2 linked regions of the Homo sapiens genome follow. The protein of the gene in region 1 purifies or fractionates together with the protein of each later gene. This does not show direct contact. Each region holds a gene or a part of one and is shown in the gene's direction. Other genes may lie near its edges.

Evidence for each region. The genes of interacting proteins can lie anywhere in the genome.
Region 2: the proteins of ENTPD7 (region 1) and SLC33A1 purify together in Homo sapiens (affinity purification with mass spectrometry; one large-scale study listed by BioGRID and IntAct). This does not show direct contact.

What each region holds. Positions count from the first base shown.
Region 1 is NC_000010.11:99,679,808-99,683,688, forward strand, and holds part of ENTPD7 (ectonucleoside triphosphate diphosphohydrolase 7), read left to right. Parts: coding exon 1-68; intron 69-3,881. UniProt on the Homo sapiens protein: Catalyzes the hydrolysis of nucleoside triphosphates and diphosphates in a calcium- or magnesium-dependent manner. Preferentially hydrolyzes nucleoside 5'-triphosphates, with substrate preference for UTP > GTP > CTP.
Region 2 is NC_000003.12:155,833,911-155,837,427, reverse strand, and holds part of SLC33A1 (acetyl-coenzyme A transporter 1), read left to right. Parts: intron 1-3,386; coding exon 3,387-3,517. UniProt on the Homo sapiens protein: Acetyl-CoA transporter that mediates active acetyl-CoA import through the endoplasmic reticulum (ER) membrane into the ER lumen where specific ER-based acetyl-CoA:lysine acetyltransferases are responsible for the acetylation of ER-based protein substrates, such as BACE1.

The sequences.
Region 1 (3,881 bases):
GTGAAGAAGCACAAGGAGACCCCTCTTTACATCCTCTGCACAGCAGGCATGAGGCTTCTCCCTGAGAGGTGAGATGCAGGGTACAGGAAACACAGGAAAACGGTGGCACAAGAGATGAAAGGCCAGTTTCATGCACTGTCCTCTGTGGTTCCCTGGTCTATACCCCTAAACCCAATTATGACACAATCATTCATTCCCAACTTCTTGTCATTTGCTGCTTTGGGATCAGTATCTATCTGGGATGACTATAGTGATTCTTAGTTTGGATTGAGGGTTGGGAGTAGTGGTGATGGTAATAGATTTGGATCATCGGGCACATAGAGAACATAATTACAGAATAAATTAGGAAGAGGGTCACCTGATGACCTGGATACTTAGGGACTAGTCAGAGAGCTCTGGTAGGAACACTACCTTTTCTGTAACTCTGCCTAGAACCCTGGCAATAACTGGGGGAGTCCCTCTTCTTGCTGCTACTGCAAAGCTCAGTCTCCATTGCCTTAGGCCTGTTTTCTCAGCCCCAGCCAGTCACATCATTTCCACTTGACCTTTGCAATTCAGCCTGACACCTTGCCACCTGATCCCTCTTCCTGCATTAGAGGAAGAGGAAGAGAAGGCTGTATTTAGGCCAGACTCCTTGTTTGTGATTTCTCTCCTTTGGTACCACCTTGATCCGTCCATACTTACGTAGGCCGGGGGAAGAATGAGCTCCCTGACTTTTTTTTTAATGATTTTTATTTTATTGTGGTAAGCATACAACATGAGAGCTACCCTCTAACCAGATTTTTTTCTTTTTTTTTAGAGACAGGGTCTGCTCTGTTGCCCAGGCTGGAGGGCAGTGGTGTGATCACAGCTCACTTCAACCTCTGCCCCCCAGGCCCAAGTGATCCTCCCACCTCAGCCTCCTAAGTAGCTGGGACTACAGGTGGGCACCATCACACCCAGCTAATTTTTGTGGAGCCAGGTTTCACCATGTTGCCCAGGCTGGTTTAGAACTCCTGGGCTCAAGTGATCCGCTTGCCTCAGCCTCCCAGAGCGCTGGGATTTCAAGCGTCAGCTACCATGTCTGGCCCAACAAATTTTTAAGTATACAATACGTTATTGTTGACTGTGTGTACAGTGTTGTACAGTGGATCTTCAGTGCTTATTCATCTTGCTTAACTGAAATTTTGTGCCTATTTATTTCCCTTAGCATATTGTCGTTAGTGTTCATCCACCTTGTCACATATTGCAGAATGCCCTTTTTTATTTAAAAAAGTCTAAATAGTATTCCACTGTGTGTATGTACCATGTTTTCTTTACATATTCATCTGTCAGTGAACATTTAGGTTGTTTCCACATCTTGGTTATTGTAAATAATGCTTCAGTGAACATGGGAGGGCTCATATCTCTTTGAGATCCTGATTTTAAATCTTTGGAATAATTAGCCAGAAGTAGGATTGCTGGATCATATGACAGTTTGATTATTTATTTATTTATTTATTTATTTACTGAGACAGGGTCTCGCTCTGTTGCCCAAGCTGGAGTGCAATGGCATGATCTCGGCTCACTGCAACTTCCACCTCACAGGCTCAGGTGATTCTCCCACCTCAGCCTCCCAAGTATCTGGGACCACAGGCATGTGCCACCATGCCTGGCTAATTTTTTGTATTTTTTTTTGTAGAGATGGGGTCTTGCCATGTTGCTCAGGCTGTTCTTGAAGTCCTGGGCTCAAGCAGTCTGCACGTCTTGGCCTCCCAAAGTGCTGAATTACAGGCGTGAGCCACCGTACCCGGCCTATATTTTTAATTTTTTGAGGAACCTCCATACTGTTTTGCAGAGCTGCTGCACCATTTTATATTCCCACCAGCAGTATGCAGAGTTTCCAATTTCTCCACAGCCCTGCCAACACTTGTTGTCTTTTGTTTTTTGGATAACAGCCATCCTGACAAGTGTGAGGTGATATGTCATCGGGGTTTTGATTTGCATTTCCCTGATGACTAGGGATGTTGAGCAACTTTTCATATGCCTGTTGGCCATTTCTGTGAATGGAGAAATGTCTATTCAAGTCTTTAGCCCATTTTTACATTGGGTTAATAGGATTTTTGCTGTTGAGTTGTAGGAGTTTCTAAAATATTTTAAAGATAAACCCCTTACCAAGGTATAGTTCGCAAATATTTTTTCCCATTCTGTAGCTTGCCTTTTTACTCTGTTAATTTTTTCCTTTACTGTACAGAAATTTTTAGTTTGATATAGTCTTACTTGTTTATTTTTGGTTGCCTGTGCCTTTTGGTGTCATATCAATGAGACCATTGCCAACCTTAACTTTAGAATTCATCCTCCTGGAATGTTCATGGTCTCATAGGCATCAGGTATTTCCTTATTAGCTTAAATATTTTCCTTTGGTCAACAGCAGTTTTTTTTTTTTTTTACAACGTTTAAATTTTATAGTTGGCTTTCTTTCCTTAAATCAACAGCAAACAACAAAAACCTCAGCCATACATGTAGGGCTCCAAGGCTTATGTCAGACATGTAGACAACATAACATATAGCAGCAATGCTTCTTTCAGTGGACTTTTTTTCACAGTTACTGGTTTACTGACTGGTTTACTGTTGAGAAGCAGATTATTTATATAGCCATTTGTCAACATGAGAGGTTTTTTAGTTCCTTATTGCCCCATACATTTCAGTCTTTAAAAAATTTTTTGTTTTGTTTTTACTTATCTTTAAAACCAAACTTTAAATATTGTAACTGCAGCCTTAACTCCTTAAGGGAAATCTTAAAAATGAACAAAACAATACAATACAACTTACAACCCTGCTACCCTATCAAAACTGTTTCGTTTTGTTGTATTCCCTCCTTTCTGTTCACATATATGTAATTTCCACAAAGTTGCAATCATACTGTGCATGCAATTAAGAATTTTTATTTGACATAGGTGATATTCATATTGTTCAAAAATTTTAGAAACCCTGGGAAGAATATAGATGACACAAGAGCAGGTGCCACATCACAAAGTCTATAAAAGGCCAAGGAAAGGGGAGGGAGGCCAGAGAAAAAGCTGACCTGGAGGTTAAAAAGGCAGAATTGACCAGCTGAGCTGGGCAGAGGAACCCACTTGGTAGTTTGGCTACCTTTAGTGTGTTTGGAGGAAAGGAGATTGTTGCCTCACCTCCTGGCACTGTTCGGTATTACCTCTGTCAAAGAAGTTTCCATCCAAACAAAACCCACTGTGTAGCTCCACCCTTTTTGTCTAAGATGTTAGTTGTCAATGTGGAAACTCTGAATATTAATATTTATTGTATCTAAAGAATTTTTAAAGAAATTTGCCTTTTTTTTTTCTCTTTCAACTTGTTTTCTGGTCACCTCTCTAAATAATGCATACATCTGTTCTAGGCTTATAAAATCATTGCTGCCTCTAAGTCCAAGCGAGTTGTTGGCATAAATGTGACTATCAGTATAAGAACCTGTTTTGTATGATTAAAGGTTTGCTAATTTATTAGCATTTGTAAGCAGATTCAAAATAGGGTTGAACCATTTAGACTATATTTTGAATTTATTAGCATTTGGTTTTATTTCTTTGCCAAAGGCCTGGACTAACAGAATTTTTTCTACCTCCCTTTTATTTTGCAGTTAAAAAAAATCCCTTAAAAATTACACCATAATACAAGGTGGTGTTTAATAAAATAATAATTTTTATTTTAGGAAATTTCACTTGTGTATAAAAGTAAAGAGAACAGTGCAGTAAATCCCCATTTACCCACTACCCAGCTTTAACAATTATCAACATTTCGCCATTTTAAAAGCATTTTAAATAAATAAACAATATTGAATTTTAGAAGATGAAAGCTTTATCCTGTCACTATGTATACATGAAGAATGATTTGGGTTTTTGTTTTTTTAG
Region 2 (3,517 bases), on another chromosome or scaffold:
GAGAGTTCTGATTTTAAGGAGTTTCACATCCTTGAAAACACATATATTATCTTTTTTTTTTTTTTTTTTTTTGAGACGGAGTCTCGCTCTGTCCCCCAGGCTGGAGTGCAGTGGCGCGATCTCGGCTCACTGCAAGCTCTGCCTCCTGGGTTCACACCATTCTCCTGCCTCAGCCTCCCAAGTAGCTGGGACTACAGGCACCCACCACCACGCCCAGCTAATTTTGTGTATTTTTAGTAGAGACGGGGTTTCACCTAGCCAGGATGGTCTCGATCTCCTGACCTTGTGATCCACCCACCTTGGCCTCCCAAAGTGCTAGGATTACAGGCGTGAGCCACTGCACCTGGTGTATATCATCTTTTTAATTTTAGCCTTTCTGGTGGTTGTGTAATGGCATCTTGTTATTGCCATAATTTGAATTTCCCTAATGACAAAAGAAATTGAGCATCTTTTCATGTGATTATTGACCATTTGAATATCCAAAGTTGCCCTTTTCTTTAAATTTGTAAAGTTGTTGTTTCTGTTTAGATTTCGTTGTTTGAGATGAGGTCTCTGTCACCTAGGCTGGAGTGCAGTGGCACCATCACAGCTCATTGCAGCCCTGACCTCCTGGGCTCAAGTGATCCTCCAACCTCAGTCACCCAAGTACAGGCATGTGCCACCACCACGCCCAGTAAATTAAAAAAAATATTTTGTAGAAAAGAGTTCTTACTATGATGTCCAGACTGGTCTTGAGCTTCTGGGCTGAAGCAATCCTCCCGCCTCATCCTCCCAAAGTGCTGTGCTTACAGGCATGAGCCACTGTGCCAGACCAAACTTTTTAAAATATATTTTGAATTTGAGTCTTTTATTAGATATGTGTATTACAAATATCTCCTACTATATAACTTTTAAGACTTTTTTAACATTTTAAGATTAAACATTAAAGTCAGTTTGTATGTCTTATTTTTACAAAGGGAATGAGTAAAATGTAAGTGAAATTATTTTCTGGACTTAAGTGAAATATATGTTACCTTTAATTTTTTTTATGGTGAAATTTTCTTTGGCTCTATTCCAAGAAGTTACCGTGTATACTATTTATAATTTTTCTTTCTTTCTTTTTTTCTTTCTTTCCTTTTTTTTTTTTTTTTTTTTTTTTTTTTTTTTTGACAGAGTCTCACTCTGTCACCAGGCTGGAGTGCAGTGGCGCGATCTTGGCTCACTGCAACTTCCACCTCCCAGGTTCAAGCGATTCTGCTGCCTCAGCCTCCTGAGTAGCTGGGACTACAGGCGTATACCACCACACCTGGCTAGTTTTTGTATTTTTAGTGGAGATGGGGTTTCACCATGTTGGCCAGGATGGTCTCAAATCTCCTGACCTCGTGATCCACCCACCTTGGCCTCCCAAAGTGCTGGAATTACAGGCATGAGCCACCGCGTCTGGCCTTATAATTTCTTTAAAAAAAAAAAAATTGTGTGATATTGAAGTGGCCTTGTGGTCTAGGGTAGTACCTGAGGTTTGCTGTCTCACAGCCACAGAGATCAAGGACGTGGACACACAAAGAGTGAGGTTAACAGCAGAAGTTTAGTAGGTGAGAGAGAGAATAGCTCTGTGCTACAGAGAGGTGTCCTGGAAAAATGTGTTGCCAGATCTGTGGTGAAATGCAAGGGGTTTTTTAGATGAGCTAGTGGGGAGGCAGTGTCTGTTTTAAATAGGGCATGAAAAACCGGTAAGGTCCAGGTGCACCATTTATATAGGGCATGAATTTCTGGCAGCCCCCACCCTAATTTTTTATCATGCAGGCAGGTTCTCTGCCTGAGCTGCACCATGTTGCCCATTTTTTTACTGTACACATGCTAACAAAAAAGAGAAGGTGGAGCTTTCATGGTGGACATGCCTGGCTCCCAGGTAGCCCTTTTCTGTTGGTTCAGCTGCTGGCATTCCCCCGTGCAAGCTTCCAGCTTGCTTATCTATGTTTGCAACTCAAGTTTTTCAGGCTGCTCTTCGTTAGAAAAGAAATGATTTTGGGGGCCGCTTTTTGTTAGAAGGGAAGCTCTGCCGAGGTCTCTTTTGCCCTCACTATCTGCCTAAATAATTTCTTTCTGCCTACTGTATCGATATAACTTCACACTTCTTGAAAATGTATTAGTAGAACTCCTTTATATCCTTTATCCAGATTATCTAATTATTAACGTTTAGCTACACTTTCCTTATTCTGTAGATGTTCTCTTTCTATGTATATCCATTACATATGTCTTCTGAAATACTTTAGAGTAATTTGTACACATTATGCACTTTTATCCATAAGTACCTTAAGTATGTATTTCCTAAGAACAAGTTTTCTGCTTACAAAACCACAACTCAATATTGGGAAATTTTAAATTGATATAATATTATTGTCTAATTATAGTCCATATCCAAATTTTACACAATAACAGTCCTTATAACTTTAATTTTTTTCTTGTTGGGGATCTAATCTAGGATCACACATTGCATTCAGTTGGTATGGCCTTTCATTGTCCTTAATATCCTTGACATTTTTGAAGAATACAGGCCAATTATGCTGTAGAATGGGCTTCTAGTTACATTTCTCTCATGTTTCTTCTTGTTTGGGTTGAGGTTATTCAGGTATATAAGACAGGAAGATCAAAGAAGTAATGTTTTGATGTCTGCAGGGAATTATACTGAAAGCCATATCATGTCTCTTTATCCCTTTAACTGCTGTTTTTAACTTTAATTGCTTTGCTAATCTATTGTAAAAGTACTATTTTTTCTTTTGTAATTAAAAACTGACTCATGGGGAGATACTTTGAGGCTATCTAAATAATCTTAATTTAATTCTTACTCTTTTTTGTGCTGTTTTAAAGAATTAATCTAACTATACTTTATCCCTTTCATTTTATTCAATCTCTCAGATACGTTTTCCCAGAATTACTTTTGAAACATTAGATGAACTTAGGAAATTTTATTATGGTCAGTCAGAAATCATTAAAAATGTATATATATATTGGCAGTTATGCTTCATTTTAACCAGATTGATTTGGGTCAATTAAAGGCTTAAGTTCTTTTAAACCTAAAACTTTCAAATTGGTAAATTTGGATTTTTGACCCCGTTTACTATAACACATTGGACTTTTTGAAGTGGAAATTTAGTTGTATTTATAGCCATCTACCATCCCTACCAGTACTGAATTTTCAGTTGTTTTCACTTAATATTATTAGAAAACCATAAGGCAAAATGTACCTCGTATAACTTGACTGTTGTACCAGGTATAATAATATGATGCTCACTTGTAACTGTCATGGGTCAGTAATAAAATTGAGGTTCTTGAAGAACTTACATATGCATGGAGGAAAATATTTCATAAGTCACGAATTAAAATACTTTTTTGTTTTTATATTGCAGATTGGTTTTTCAGCAGCAGATGCTGTAACAGGACTGAAATTGGTAGAAGAGGGAGTACCCAAAGAACATTTAGCCTTATTGGCAGTTCCAATGGTTCCTTTGCAGATAATACTGCCTCTGATTATCAGCAA